2 linked regions of the Homo sapiens genome follow. The protein of the gene in region 2 purifies or fractionates together with the protein of the main gene of each other region. This does not show direct contact. Each region holds a gene or a part of one and is shown on either strand. Other genes may lie near its edges.

What was found. Proteins that work in one complex are often made in the same cells at the same time.
Region 1: the proteins of STX12 (region 2) and NAPG purify together in Homo sapiens (affinity purification with mass spectrometry; 5 studies listed by BioGRID and IntAct, with this or other methods). This does not show direct contact.

What each region holds. Positions count from the first base shown.
Region 1 is NC_000018.10:10,521,359-10,529,045, reverse strand, and holds the start of NAPG (gamma-soluble NSF attachment protein), read right to left. Parts: upstream 3,020-7,687; 5' UTR 2,944-3,019; coding exon 2,888-2,943; intron 2,600-2,887; exon of another isoform or gene 2,472-2,599; coding exon of another isoform or gene 2,281-2,471; intron 46-2,280; coding exon of another isoform or gene 1-45. UniProt on the Homo sapiens protein: Required for vesicular transport between the endoplasmic reticulum and the Golgi apparatus.
Region 2 is NC_000001.11:27,768,322-27,776,225, forward strand, and holds the start of STX12 (syntaxin-12), read left to right. Parts: upstream 1-4,897; 5' UTR 4,898-4,986; coding exon 4,987-5,104; intron 5,105-7,904. UniProt on the Homo sapiens protein: SNARE promoting fusion of transport vesicles with target membranes. Together with SNARE STX6, promotes movement of vesicles from endosomes to the cell membrane, and may therefore function in the endocytic recycling pathway.

The DNA.
Region 1 (7,687 bases), on a different chromosome or scaffold from region 2:
CTGTTAGTCCTTTTGACCTTTTTCTCCAAAGAATCAATAAGGAAACTGACCAATTTCCACAGAAAAAAAGAAAACAGCAAAATTACCATCTGTGTGGGGATCAATTTACAAAATTACTCAGCAATATTGAACTACGTCATCATTAGAAAATGGAGAAAAATCAAATATCTCCTAAGCTCCTGGCCCATTTTTCCTACCACCCACTGAGTAACTCTGTCTAGCAGCATTTCAAACTAACACTTCAAGCCTGAACTCCACACCTCCCCGCCCCACCTCCCTGCCCCAGACCTACCCACCAATCACATCCATTAATCTATATCCCCTATCTTGGCTGAAGGCCTCTCCCACTCGTCTCCCAAGTTAGAAACCTAGGAGTTAACTCTTCATCTCTACATGCAGGCACCTCATTAAAGCATGTCAACCTTACTGACAAACATCACCCAGTCCTACCCCTGTACTGTTATTTGAATTCAGGCCATCACCACCTCTCCCCTGAAGTCGACAACCCACTAACATGTCTGGCAGTACCTTCATGGGAGAGTCACCTTTCCTCCTCTTCCATTCCCCACATCCTGAGCATATTACCTTTTCCTTGCTTCCTATCTCTACCATACCACACTGAATACTTCTATTCTAGCACTGAACATCCTATTTTTAGTCCTCTGTTAACTTGTCTGCCCACCTGTGAATTCTAAGCTCTTGAAGAAGGGACCACTTTTGGTTACTCCAGTATCCTCTGTGGCTGGTACAGGTACACAGAGACAACTTTGTAAATGTTCGTTTACTGAATATGTCAAAGTCCATTCTCCACACTGCTGCCACATTTCTTTTTCTTTTCCTTTTTATTTATTTATTTTTTTGATACAGAGTCTTGCTCTGTCTCCCAGGCTGGAATGCAGTGGCGCGATCTCCGCTCACTGCAACCTCCGCCTCTAGGGCTCAAGGGATTCTCCTGCCTCAGCCTCCTGAGCAATTGGGATTACAGGTGCGCGCCACCACAGCCGGCTAATTTTTGTATTTTTAGTAGAGACAGGGTTTCACCATGTTGGCCAGGCTGGTCTCGAACTCCTGACCTCAAGTGATCCACCCGCCTCAGCCTCCCAAAGTGCTGGGATTACAGGCATGAGCGACAGGGCCCAGCCTGCTGCCACATTTCTTTCACCAAAAGCAAATCTAACCGAGTCCACTGGTTGGATGCCTACAATAGCCATGTGAGAAGCTGTCCCTTCACAGTCTGGCCCCAACTCTTTTTCACTCCAGCTCGTCCCCTGGCACTGTGACTACACTACATTCACTGTTCCCAGAGCACATTTTCAGGCCCGCGTATAATACATACTACAGGTTGCGCACAGAATCTCTTTCACAAGATTTTCCCTCCGTCTAAAACATTCCGTATTTTTCAAGCTCTGCTCACAAATCATCTCCTCCTCAAATTTTCTCAGGCAGAATAAACTTCTCCCTCTGGGTTACCTATGCACAGTTAATACAGCTTTTTTGTGGTCCCTATTCCACACACTATTCTTATTACAAATTTTGCGTTTGCTCCCACTAGAAAGCAGAATGTTGTGGGAACCTCCTGCACCAGGAGAGCCCCAGCACCTTACACGCTGACTGCCTCGAGTCATGTGATAGAGCTTGAGTTTTTCCACTGTTTGAAAACTGGCTCTGCGATCTTTCACCTGTGCAGTTGGGGGCAAGTCGTTATGAGGCTTCCCTGAGTCTCATTTCCTCTTACGAAAAATTAGAATCTCTATTTGGAAAGTTATTGTGAAGATCTCAGCTTATGAAATTATGTATGTGAAGCACCCACCACAGAGCACAATGCTGACTTTTTCTTTTCTTTTTTTTTTTTTTTTTTGAGACGGAGTCTCGCTCTGTGGCCCAGGCTGGAGTGCAGTGGCGCGATCTCGGCTCACTGCAAGCTCTGCCTTCCGGGTTCAGGCCATTCTCCTGCCTCAGGCTCCCGAGTAGCTGGGACTACAGGCGCCCGCCACCACGCCCGGCTAATTTTTTGTATTTTTAGTAGAGACGGTTTTCACCGTGTTAGCCAGGATGGTCTGGATCTTCTGACCTTGTGATCCGCCCGCCTCGGCCTCCCAAAGTGCTGGGATTGCAGACGTGAGCCACCGCGCCCGGCCCACAATGCTGACTTTCTATTAACTGTAACTGCCAGATAAAAATGCACTGGAGTAATGAAACGGGGGGAAGAGGCTGCCAAAAGGATGAATTAAGGATTATCAGTTCAGTCCCACAAACATTTGCAGGGTGCCTACTACGTACTGTACCAGAGGTGGCAGGACATACACATCAAAGGACGAACGAAGCACAGTCCCTGCCCACAGGGACAGTAAAATGCCAGATGACAAAGGTTCACCGAGGAGTTTTTGGGGTAAACCTATGGTCCCCTCCACACAGGGGGCTCTTCTAGGGCGGTGGTTCTCAACAGAGCGATGTTGTTCCCCAGATGACATTTTGGGTTGCCACAAATGGGGAAGAGATGCGACCGGCACCCAGCAGGTAGAGGCCAAGGATGCTGCTAACGAGCCTCCGATGCACAGACAGCCCCCACCACAATCTTCAGGAGCAGAGCGCCCAAGTAGAGAAGCCCTCGCCCCGCAGCACTGCGCCGAGTCCCCGCCCACACCGGCTCTGGGGAGCGGACTTCCGGCGGGGTGGACCCACGGCGCTTCCCGAGGCGCCGCAGAGCTGACCCCGACCCCGGGAGTGTGACCCAGAGGACACCGAGCCCCGGCAGCCCTGCGGGCACCAGCGCGCCGAGGCCCCTCAGCCCTGAGCCCTCCCTCCCGCCCCCCCCGGGTGCTAAGGCCGCGCCAGTGAGAGACGGACCCGGCGTCTACACACAGGCCCCCGGAAGGTTCTCACTCACTATTTCTCTGCTTTGGCGAGGTGTTCCAGCCCCTCGTTTATCTTCTGAGCCGCCATCTCCACAGTCAGGTCTCTGACGTGGAGAGAGGGTGACCCTGCCTCTTCCTCCGGCGCCAAGAATCCGCCCAAATAGGCGTGGGAACGCCGAGGAGGAAGCTGGTGCAGCGCGACAGTCGAGCGGCTACGGAGGGCCGGAGGGCCCAAGCCGCTGCGACGAAGCGGGGCTGGGAGCCTGCCGGTGCGCCCCGCAAAGAGACATTGCGCAGGCGCAGCGCGTCAAGGCTGGCCCCACCTAGGGCATCTAGCGCAGGCGCGGTGAGATACTGATGGGGCGTATTCTTTCATTCAATATTTGCAAAGCACCTAATATGTGTCAGGCACTATTTTAGATGCGGGAAGATCAGCAGACAAAAACTCCCGCCCTCTTGAAGTCTTGCTTTTTCATTAATGTGAAACTGCTGTGGATCCTGTTTGTAGGGTTAATTGGCTTTATAATTTATTACATCTGAAGTTTCTCTGTATGACAGATAGAATAGTATTCTTCTATCCATTCTGCCTTTTGGGTATTAATTGTATGTCAGTCAAGAAACGAAACAGACTTGTAAACCCTGATTACTGTCAAATAATCCGCGCCCAACCCAAATAATCGCTCTAATATTTCAAGCCGTGATAAGTGCTCTAAATGGGAAGTTGAGGGATCTAAAGTCGCGTACAGTGGTCTGGTAAAAATAGTAACCAGTAATACAGTTGGCTTCATTCATAATTCATGGTGATTTCAATATCCACATGGATGATTCCTGCAATGACTATACAGCCTCTCAGCTTCCAACCTCCTGTGATCTTTCCCACACTAGCGCAGCCACACATTCCTGGGATCACACCCTTGACCTTACTCATAACTGTGTACCCTCCGTAGTGTCAGTTTCAAACAGCTCACTTTACTTCCCCTTTCCATTCCAGCTCATACCTCCTAGTGCTAGTAATTACTTAACCTTCACCAGATTCCTCACCTTTCCCTATCCCTCTGCTCTTACACGTCCTTCTTTTCCCAGCATAAATTCATGTCCCATCATTTTAGTGCGTATACTCTCAACGGCCTTGGCTCCCTCTCCCTCCTTTCTCCAAGCCAGGAAAAACCCCAGCTCTCCACCTACTCTGGAACTGCTCTTGAGCAAGTGAATTTGACTGGAAAAAAACAAACGAGGATGCTAACATTACTCATTTTAATGATCATAAACATTAAGCCGACCTTTGGTGCTGCTGAGCAACTCTCCTATGTTTCCATGGTCAAATCACTCACCCACTCACTTGGAGGGCTGTTCACACCTTCCTTCTCAAAACTCCTACACAATCTCTGCTTGCCTGCCAACTCTCACTTATTGTTGAATATGAAATAACTATTCGAAGAGTTCTTCCCTTTGGCCTCACCACACAATCGATCGATCTTCCTGCATCTATTTGCCAATCAATATTTTGCATTTTTTCTAGTGCCAACAGGTGAACTGGCCTTGGATTTTTTTCTCTATCCTCACTTTCTTATTTAGTACCCACACACAAGACCCCTCTTCATTTGGTTGTCTAGCCTGGGCTTCCTTTATAGGAAGGCAGCAGAATTTCAAGAGAGTGAAAGTGGAAACTTCAGGCTTCGTAAGGCCTGGACTCCCACTGCACATTACTTCTGCCACATTTTATTGATGAAAACATGTCATAAGGCAAGTTCAGATTCAAGAGGTAGGAAAATAGAGGAGTGTAAAATACTTTGGCCATGACTTCCAATTCACCACAACTCTGGGATGACTGATTAAATATAAAAGGACTGTTACCAGTGGAAAGCCTTATGTTTTCAAGTGAGTTTAGATTTATTAACCACCCAATACCATCACCCTCTAAAACCATTGAAAGTGCCCAGAAAGTTTTCTAAGCCTATAACCTCCTCCACATTCTCCCTTATTTATTCATTCATTATTGAATTATTGTTTACTGAATGCCCACTCTGCACAAGACATTAAGCCTACACACCTAGGACCCAATTGTTGAGCAAGAGATATAATGCCTGCCCTCATTGCATTCATGATCTATGAGAGGATACAATATTTAACTTAATTTTACTTTGGCATCAACAAAGAAAGAATGGGAAAAAAACCCCACGATAGTGATATAGCAGTTATTAAGAAATACTTTTTAGGCAGATAGTAAGGGTAAATGTTCTCAGTGGAAATTTTCCTGTTTTAAGAAACAACCCCTGAACCATCTCTTTTCTAACAGAAAAGGCAGCTTGAAGAGCCAGGCCCGCAAGCTTTGATATGCAAATGTCAGTCCTTAGAAACTGAGTTCACTCAACATGGTGATTCCGCCATCTCTTCCTTGTCATCAGGTGTACCAAGTGTCATGGCCACCTCCAGATAACACCATGTGTTCAGAACATCACGGTGACCTGTATTTGCATATTAAAGGGCTAAGGTGGGAGGGCCAGGTTTTTCGAGAGCTATGTAAATGACACACCTGGTCAAACCAATCCCCTGGGCCCTATGCAAACCAGACACCACCTCCTCCAGGATCCCAATATAAGCAACCACTTTTCCACTGCACACTGGGTTTTCTCTTTGTTCAAATCCTCCCTACCTCTGTCTCTGTATGGGGGAGGTGTTTTCTTCTTCCTTCCTTCTTTCTTGCCTATTAAACTTTTCACTCCTTAAAACCACTCCACGTGTCCGTGTTGTTAATCCTATCAGCACGAGACCAACAACCCTGGTGTTCCTCCATTCGTTGGAGCTATATCAATAGCCATGGGCATTCAAGGGTTCTATGTTTCAAAGGACCCTTGACCAGGGAAGCCGTGGTAAGTATGTGCTAACATGCATTCATAGTAAAGGGGAGAAGAAGAGAGAGAATGGGCACAGTAAAGGTGTAACACAAATGCCCCCACTTTCTTCCCCTCCCCTTCTCTTCCTGCAATAACATTGAGGTGGGAGTTGAGCAAGGGGAATTTAAACTGAGAAGTCAGCTTAGAAGAACTGAGAATGGAAAGCATGGACCAAATGATGATAGACTAAGACGTGTAGTTTCCCAAGCTAGAATCGATAGTGTGACCCCAGGCCTTGTTGACCCATAAACGTAATTCTTGTTATCACAGCAGCTACCACCAGAACCTCAGCAAAAGTTGTCTTTGTGACTTCAACTTACCTCTTGCCTCCTCTCCTAAGGCTCTTTAGACGCTCATGTCCTCCCTCACCTACCCCGTCAACATACAGACTTGCTGGCTGCTGGCCCAAGTGATTCCATCTGAGCCAATCCTCTCCTCTAGTTCTAGAAACTCTTTTTCTTTATCCTGCCTCAATAAAAATGTGCATTCCTGAGTGATCTACTTGTTTTGGATGTGACTAAAATGATTCACATCAAAGTGTGAATGAGGCTTAAAATAGAGCTTGCAAACCCCATTCCTTCTCTCATGGTGGGCTTAAGTCTCTGAGAGTTCTTTAAGCCTGCATCCCCAGGTTCCTTGTCTACACAAACCTGCTTCCTTCCCCTAGCCTAGTCTGCTGCCAGGAAGCAAAATCCTTGGACCTACCTCCCACAGCTGAATGTTCCAGTCAAATAAAAGGTCTTTGTCATTTCTTGGAGAGAGGGTTTGATGGGTCAAATGAGCTCTATTTCAAATCAGGAATCATAAATAAGGAAACATAAGAGCTCCTATATCGCTAAGTTTTCTTTGTTTGTTTAATTGCTAGTAGCCTGACTGTGTAATTTTACCCTTTTCCCCCACAAATATACTGTTATGTTATACAAGAGATACACTTCTGAGACCCAGCCCAAGAGGTTAGCCATGAATCATAAAATCATTTCTCTGGGAAAATATATTCTGAGTTATAAATAACGAATTTACAAAAAACCTTTGGAACAAATTCTGCTATCATTTGACAGTTCCTTTCATCAGAATAGGATTTTAGAAGATTGTTCTTGGCTTTTTTTCTGATAAAACTAATAGAAGCCATTATGATCTGTATTTTTTTTTCTGGTTAAGTGTTAATGAATACATTGACTTTTAAAAATCACCACTGAATCTCTATGAGATTAATATGGAGAATTCGTTCTCCAGATTCCTGTGTCCAATGCCTTCTTAGCAGCTCCACCTAGACATCTAAAATGTCATACATAATCTGTTCAAATCTGAGCTCCTGATGCTCCCATACCTGCTCTCCCTTCAGGCTCAGCCATGCTGGGTTCATGGCAGCTTCACCCTCTCCTTGCCCAAACACTTGGAGTCATGCTCCTCTGCTCTTTCTGTCGCACAACACATGCAATCTGTAGGAAATTCTGTCGACTTTGCCTCCAAAAAGTGCCCAGAGGCAACCACGTCTCCTCATCTCCCTGTCCACAGCCACCGCGTAGTCTGTTAGTTGCCATCGTCTGTGACTGCACTCACCATCTGTGTTCAGAACACAGTGCAGTGCGAATTCCAGAGCAGAACTCAGTCAATTTTGGCTGAAAGTCCTGTGTCATTACGGAAGAAGAGGAAGAAGCATTTGGACACTTGGAAGGTGTTTTCTCTCAAGTCTGGCCATGGCCCTTCTTCAAGGTAATTTCTTTTCTTTCTTTCTTTCTTTCTTTTTTAAATTATTCTTTCTTTTTTTTTAGAGACAGGGTCTTACTCTGTCACCCAGGTTGGAGTGCAGTGGCATAATCATGGCTCACTGCAGCCTCAAACTCCTAGCCTCAAGCAATCCTCCTGCCTCAACCTCCCAAGTAACTGGGACTGTGGGTATGTGCCACCACACCTGGCTATTTTTTATTATTATTTTTA
Region 2 (7,904 bases):
CTCAGCCTCCCGAGTAGCTGGGATTACAGGCCTGTGCCACCATGCCCAGCTAATTTTTGTATTTTTTGTAGAGACAGGGTTTCACCATGTTGTCCAGGGTAGTCTTGATCTCCTGAGCTCAAGTGATCCATCCTTTTGGCCTCCCAAAGTGCTGGGATTGCAGACATGAGCCACTGCACTTGGCCCTATTCTGACTTTTAATAACATAGATTTAATTTGGCCAGTTTTGAACTTAATAAAGATGAAATGATACAGATTGTACTCATTTTATGTCTAGCTTCCTCTTCTCCTTTTTTTTTTTTTTTTTTTTTTTTTTTTTAAGAGACAGGGTCTCGCTGTGTCGCCCAGGCTGGAGTGCAGTGGTGCAATCATAGCTCACTGCAGCCTTGACCTCCTGGCCTCAAGGATCCTCTCACCTTGATCTCTCAGGTAGCTAGGACTACAGGTGTGCACCACTGTGCCTAGCTAATTTGTGTCTGGCTTCTTTAGCTATGCATTGTTGGGAAGAGGTCACCTATGTTGTTCACACAGCAGTAGGCCATTTATTTTTGTGCTTTATAATATCTGTTTATACAAACCTCTGTTGATGGATATTCGAGTTGTTTACAGTTTGGAACTAGTAAAAATAAATACTGCTATGAACTTCATAATAACACCAAATTGGAAACAATGCAAACATCCATCAATAAGAGAATGGATAATCAAACTGTAAGTATATTTATATGAGGAAATACTAATGAGTAATAAAAAAAGACCAAACTACTGATATATGTGACATCATGGATAAATCTCAAAAACATTGTGTTAATTGAAAAAAGCCAAACACTAAAGAATATATAAAGTATGAAGTCCAAGAGCAGACAAAGCTAATCTGTAGTGACAAAAATCAGAAAGTAAAGTCCAGGTGCAGTGTGGCTCATGCCTGTAATCCCAGCACTTTGAGAGGCTGAGCCAGGCGGATCATTTGAGAGGCCGAGGCGGGTGGATCATTCGAGACCAGCCTGACTAACATGGTGAAACCCTGTCTCCACTAAAAATACAAAACAAATTAGCTGGACATGGTGGCGCATGCCCATATTCACAGCTACTTGGGAGGATGAGGCAGGAGAATTGCTTGAATCACGAGGTGGAGGTTGCAGTGAGCCAAGATCGTGCCACTGCACTCCAGCCTGGGCGACAGAGTGAGACTCCATCTCAAAAAAAAAAAAAAATCAGTAAGTAACTTCCAGTGATGAGGGAAATGGATTAAAAAGGAGCATAAGTCAAGGAAACTTTCTGGGGTGATGATAAAAATGTTTTATCTCTTGATTTGGGTGTGGCAGTTACATGGATGTGTACAAGTGTCAAAATCCATTGAGCTGAACACTTACTATCTGTGCATTCGATTGTATATCAATTATAACTCAATAAAAATTAAATGTAAGGGCTGGGTGTCATAGCTCACTCCTGTAATCCCAGCACTTTGGGAGGCCGAGGTGGGTGAATTGCTTGAGCCCAGGAGTTTGAGACCAGCCTGGGCAACATGGCAAGACCACATCTCAACAAAAAAATACAAAAATTAGCCAGGTGTGGTGGTGCGTGCCTGTAGTCCCAGCTACTTGGAGGCCTGAGGTAGGAAGATGGCTTGAGCCAGGGAGATTGAGGCTGCAGTGAGTCGAGATCACGCCACTGCACTCCAGCCTGTCTCCGAAAAAAAAAAACAAAAAGTAAATAAGTATAGAAAAATGCTGCTTGGTCCTAAAAATGCTCCTATGAACTATACCTGATTTTTGGAACACGCATAGTTGGGTATATAGTTAGGAGTAGAATTGCTGGGTCAGAAGGTGCATGGGAATCCTGGCTCTGTCACTTAACAGCTGTATGACATTAGGCAAGTACCCAGAATCTCTAGTTTCTTTATCCGTACCAAGGAGCTAATATCGCCTTGATGGGTGCAAACCCATGAAGACTACTTTCGTTAATTAACAAAAGTATGTAGAGCTGAGAGACATTTTCTCTAAAGCCATAGATTTTTAGAAAATTTGTTGCTCAAATTATCAGTAAGAATGGAATATATCACTCTTACCTGGAGGATCAGTTACTTTGATGCAGAAGAGCAGCCTCAATTTCTAACGCAGGTGCAGAGCTTCAGATAAGGGGTTTCCAGACACAACATTCCACATTTATCTTGGCATCATGGTTTCCAAGGAAACAGGATCTTGTTAGCTGGGGCCTGATGATAATCCCTTTACACATAGCCTGGTGTGTTTGGGGGCTATCAAAACACTGCTTCTTTAAAAATTTATCTACATTTCTTTCCCCCAAATCCTGGAATAACTCACTGTCTTCCTGTGTTTTGTGACATGCTCCATGATTCTTTTGGTGTGCAGTTTCCCTTGCAGCAGCAAGTTAATAAACTTAACTTTGTCTGACTACAGGTGGTCTTTATCAGATGGGCTTTATCTTGGAGATTACTGATAACGTACACAAAATGTGTTCATACTGCCTGGCACCTAACAGGCATTTAAGCAATGATAAAATTATTATTTTTATTATTCATGTGTTAATTCAATAAATGTTTGTTTGACATCCAGTATTTGCAAGGCACAGATTTACTGCTATGAGAGATGCTCACTGCAACCTCTGCCTCCCTGGCTTAAGCTACACTCCTGCCTCAGCCTCCCGAGTAGCTGGGACTACAGGCTCAGGCCACTATGCCCAGCTAATTTTTGTATTTTTGGTAGAGATAGGGTTTTGCCATTTTGCCCAGGCTGGTCTCGAACTCCTGAGCTCAAGCAATGATCAGCCTGCCTCAGCCTCCCAAAGTGCTGGAATTCCAGTTGTGAGCCACCGCGCCCAGCCTAAAAACCACTTTTATTTTACATGGAGAAAGAAAACAATATTTTTAATTCCTAAAAGAAAAATATCTTTACTGAACTTCACTTTAAATAGTGTCAAATGTAAATGAAAAAAATCATCAGTACTATTATATAGGTAAAAAAGTGCAATTTACATGACTTGCTTAAGATTTGACATAAAACTACAGATTCTAAGAAACGGTAAGGTTTTATAATAATAACCAAAACAGGCTGGGTGCGGTGGCTCACGCCTGTAATCCCAACACTTTGGGAAGCCGAGGCGGGTGGATCACCTGAGGTCAGGAGTTCGAGACCAGCCTGGCCAACATGGTCAAACCCCATCTCTACTAAAAATACAAAAAGTACCCGGGCGTGGTGGTACACGCCTGTAATCCCAGCTACTCGGGAGGCTGAGGCAGGAGAATCGCTTGAACCCAGGAGGCGGAGGTTGCATTGAGCCGAGATTGCGCCATTGCACTCCAGCCTGGGCAACAGAGCAAGATTCTGTCTCAAAAATAAAATAAAATAAAATAACCAAAATAAGAGTCCCCAAATGTCATCCGTCTCTTTCTAGAGACAGGGAAAAAAAATGCTCTCATAAATTCTCCAACGAAAAATAGAGATAGTCACCCTTAAAAAATCCTAAGGCTGGTGGGTGGATTGCTTGAGCCCAGGAGTTTGAGACCAGCCTGGACAACATGGCCAAACCCCAACACTACAAAAAATATAAAAATTAGCTGGGCGTGGTGGCGCACGCCTGTAATCCTAGCTACTCAGAGGTTAGGTGGTAGGACCTCCTGAGCCCAGGAGAAGGAGGATGCAGTGAGCAGAGATCGCGCCACTGCACTCCAACCTGCGTGACAGAGCGGGACCCTGTCTCAAAAAAAATAAAATAAAGAAAAAATCCTAAGGCCATATACAGGCTCATTCACTTTGGGTCTCCTTTCATCCAGGCAAGCAGCTTTCTGTCTTTGCATTTTCCAAAGACTACAAAGCAGGCTGGGGTGGGGTGGGGTGGGGTGTAGAACACAGGAAACGCAGCCAGTTCCCCTTCACTTCTCACTATCTTGATCTCCTCCCAAACCAAAATCCTATGTCTTTCCTTTTAACATAGGCTTACAAAAATGCAGTTTTCTGTGGGAACATTGAGGTCATGCATTCCAAATTACTTAAGGGAACGATTTTTAAATTTTAGGAATCTAGTTCTCCAAGATATCCCGGCTTGGGATATAGATGAACGAGCTATTTGGGAGAGATTTAGACGAGAATGAATTTTAGAGAAGTAGCGAGGTGAGGAGAGAGTCAGCTTAGCGTTTGGGTTTTGCAGTCAAATTTCAGCAAGGCGAACTAACCTCGCTGGTCTTAATTTTCTCATCGGTAAGAGGGAAAATAATAATGCTTACTTTGATGAATTACTTTACTTCAACATTTAAAAAACCGACTCTCCGTTATCTATTCTAATGATAAAAATATAGATAGAGCATCGTCCCCTGCTGTGAAAAATCTTATGAACAAGTGAATTGCGGTGAGGATTCACATAGTATGTGCTCAATAAACATTATTTTATTGTTTAGATTAGAAGAGGGGTGGAGGGAGAAATGAAAGTGGTTTGGAAACCCCAAACACTACCAAAGCCCTGGGGATGGAAGTAGAGAGGAATTTCGGGTTACGATTTGGTTCCGGGTCTGAGTTTCAACGTTGAATTCTCCCATATTTGGGCCTGAATTCTCAGAACAGAATAGGATGTAAGGGCTGAGATCATCTGGTACAGTTTTATGCAAATCGAAAATTCTTGCCTCTTGTCACTGTGCCCTGGCGAGAAACAACACCTCCACCCAAGCTCATCCAATCTCAGCCCCAACTAGGTGACGTCATCTCCCCGCCCTGCATCCCCAAGCCTCGGGGAGTCCTGTCTCTAAGCTACAGTCCCAGCTCCAGTCCCAGCTCCAGTCCCAGCGGCGCCTGCGCACTTTGGACCGGGGCGGGGAGGACGCGTGCGCGCCGCGTGAGGGCGGGGCTAGTGCGCACGCAGCCTTAGCTCCTTCCCCGCCCTTGCTCTTCCCAGTTTCTCCGTCAGCCTGCGGGTCCCGGCTGGCGGCTGCTTCCGGTAGGAGAGCGGTGTAGAGCGAGCAGGTCTCAGCTCCTCGTCATGTCATACGGTCCCTTAGACATGTACCGGAACCCGGGGCCCTCGGGGCCCCAGCTCCGGGACTTCAGCAGCATCATCCAGACGTGCAGCGGCAACATCCAGCGGATCAGCCAAGCCAGTGAGCCGGGGTACCGAGCTGGGGGGCGGGAGCTGTCCCGGGGACAGGCCTGGGTGAGGCTGCCGGGACGCAGGGCCCGGCTGGGGCTACGGCCGAGGCCACACCTGGGGCTGTCTCGGGCTGTCCACCCTGGGGGCGGTGGGCTGCCATCCCCCAATCTGTCAGGCCCGGGTTGCCCGAGGGTCCCCGGCCCCAGCTGAAGCTTGAGCTGCTTCTCTGGAGTTCTGCCCCCACGGTGCTGGGACCAAAACAGCCGACTTGACAGCCCGAGGGTGGGAAGGGGAGTGTGTGTCACCTCGAGAGCTGTGAGTGCGTTGACTTGGCGCAGTGGTCAGCCGAGTTTCTCCTGTCACCCACCTTCCTCCCCACCCACCTCGCTTTCCTCTTAGACCAGTTTGGATGGGGTTGTTTACTGATTTAGCCTTTAGGTTTACATTCTGCTCAGCCCCTGGCTCCTCGGAAATCAGCAACTTTCAATTAAGGGAAGTGGAGAGTGCATGTGTTTGGGTGACTTCATACACAGTTCTTCCTGTAATGAATTCGGAAATCAGACACAATGACTGGTATTTGAAAGGTGGGATGACTTCATTTTAATAAAGAGAATTCACCAACAGCATTTCAATTTACATTATTTTGTCTTTTGTAACAAATAATTGGGGTGTATTTTTGGATTTCAGGCAGATGAGGCTTTTGTTTTCCTTCCCTACTTAGCTGCTCTTGAACAAATCTGGTACACAGGGAAGCTAAGACACTTAGCCACAACCACATAGCAAGTAAGGCATGGTAGAGTTGTTGGTGGAATTCAGAATGCTATTGCTTGTCTTAAAACTCCCTCCTCCCCATTAGGGTCTGAGTGAAACTGTAGCTGAATGAGTCAAATACAGGGTGTTTCTTGTGCTTGAAAATCATCTTGGAGCCTTATAAACAGGAGATCAGCAGCAGCTTTACTTGGAAAGAATGGTGGTCATCATCCTTGTTGTTTATTATTGTTTTGTGAGCTTGGCGTACTCTGTTAATAGGTAGAACTAGTTAGTCCTGAATTACAATTATATTCTATATTTTAAAGAGTGTCACTTTGCTTTCGTTTTTAAACTTTTAAAAATTTTTCTTTTTTGTAGAGATGAAGTCTTGCTATGTTGGCCAGGCTGGTCTCAAACCCCTGGGCACAAGCACTTCTCCCACTTTAGCCTCCCAAAGTGCTGGGATTACAGGCGTGAGCCACTGTGCCTAGCCTAATTTTTTTGATTTAAAATATTTTTAATTTATTTTTTCGAGACAGAGTCTACTTCTGTCACCCAGGCAGAATGCAGTGATCTGAGTGAAGTGGTACAATCCTAGCTCACTATAACCTTGAATTCCTGATCAGCTTGCTGAGTAGCAAGGACTACAAGGATGCATCTACCGTGCCAGGCTAATTTTTAAATTTTTTGTAGGGATGGGGTCTCACTATGTTGCCCAGGCTCACTTTGCTTTTAAATCTAAATGTATATTGTAGAATTTGAGAAGTAGAAAGTTTCTGATCAAAAGGGATTGAGACTCTGGAAGTGAAAGGAAGAATATGTGGCCTGTTAAAATCCAGAAGTAAAAAAAATTAATATGACCACTGGTTAGAAAGTATAGTACTGTTTGTTCCAGTTTCCTTTTGTGAAGGAGCTGTAATACAGGTTAGATCAGAAAATTCTAGTTCAAGGCTGAAATTTTCTTGTTGAAGCTAAATCTAATTTTAATATCTATTTGCGAAATATTCATTCAACATGTATCCATCTATCCATCTTCGTGTGTATTTTATATATATATAAAACCAGAATACTCCCAAAGGTAGATCCGACATACAGTTTTAAATTTAAATTTAAATTTTTATTTTGAGACAGGGTCTCACTCTGTCACCCAGGCTGGTATGCAGTGGCATGATCTCAGCTCACTGCAGCCTCAACCTCCCTGGCTCAAGCAGTCCTCCTGCCTCAGCCCTACAAGTAGCTGGGACTACAGGTGTGCACCACCACGCCCGGCTAATTTTTATATTTTTTGTAGAGATGGAGTTTCACCATGTTGTCCAGTCTGGTCTTGAACTCCTGTGCTCAAGTGATCCACCCACCTTGGCCTCCGAATAGGCCAGGATTACAGGCATGAATCATCATGCCTGGCCTTCAACATATATTTATTTGAGTATGTAGTAAGTATAAGAACTGGCATGGATCTTTCAACAGGGAACCTGCAGAGTTCATAACCAAAATATAAAGTTGAAAGGGATTGGTGCTATAGAAGACATATAAATAACATGCAGGTATTCTGGGAAGAGAGAGATTGTTTTTAATTGAGAAGGCATTATGGCATTTGAGTTATGTCTGGAAAGAGGATGGAAAGATTTGGACCTTCGAAGGTAAAGAGGAGAAGAGCATTCCAGGAGGGAATAAAATGAACAGGCATCATAGTGGGGAAGCATAGAGTATATCTAGAAGAGTAATTTAATTTGGCTAGAGTGGTGGATTCCAGAAAGTAGTGGGAAAAAAGGATTGAAAGGTAAATTGTGGCCCAAACATGAAGGATGTTAAATGCTAAGCTAAGGGGCTTGGATTTAGTTATTTAGGAAAGTGCGAATTGAATTCAAAGGGAGAGACTGGAATCAGAGATACCAGTTAGGGCTGTGAAAATGAAAAGAAAGGAAAGGATAGGAGAGGTTTCCTTGGTGATAGAATTGGTAAGATTTAGCTATTGATTGGGCATTGGGCCTCAGGGGATCATTTAAGTCAACTGTTAGTAATATTAATAGCTAACATTTGAGTACATACTGTGTTCCAGG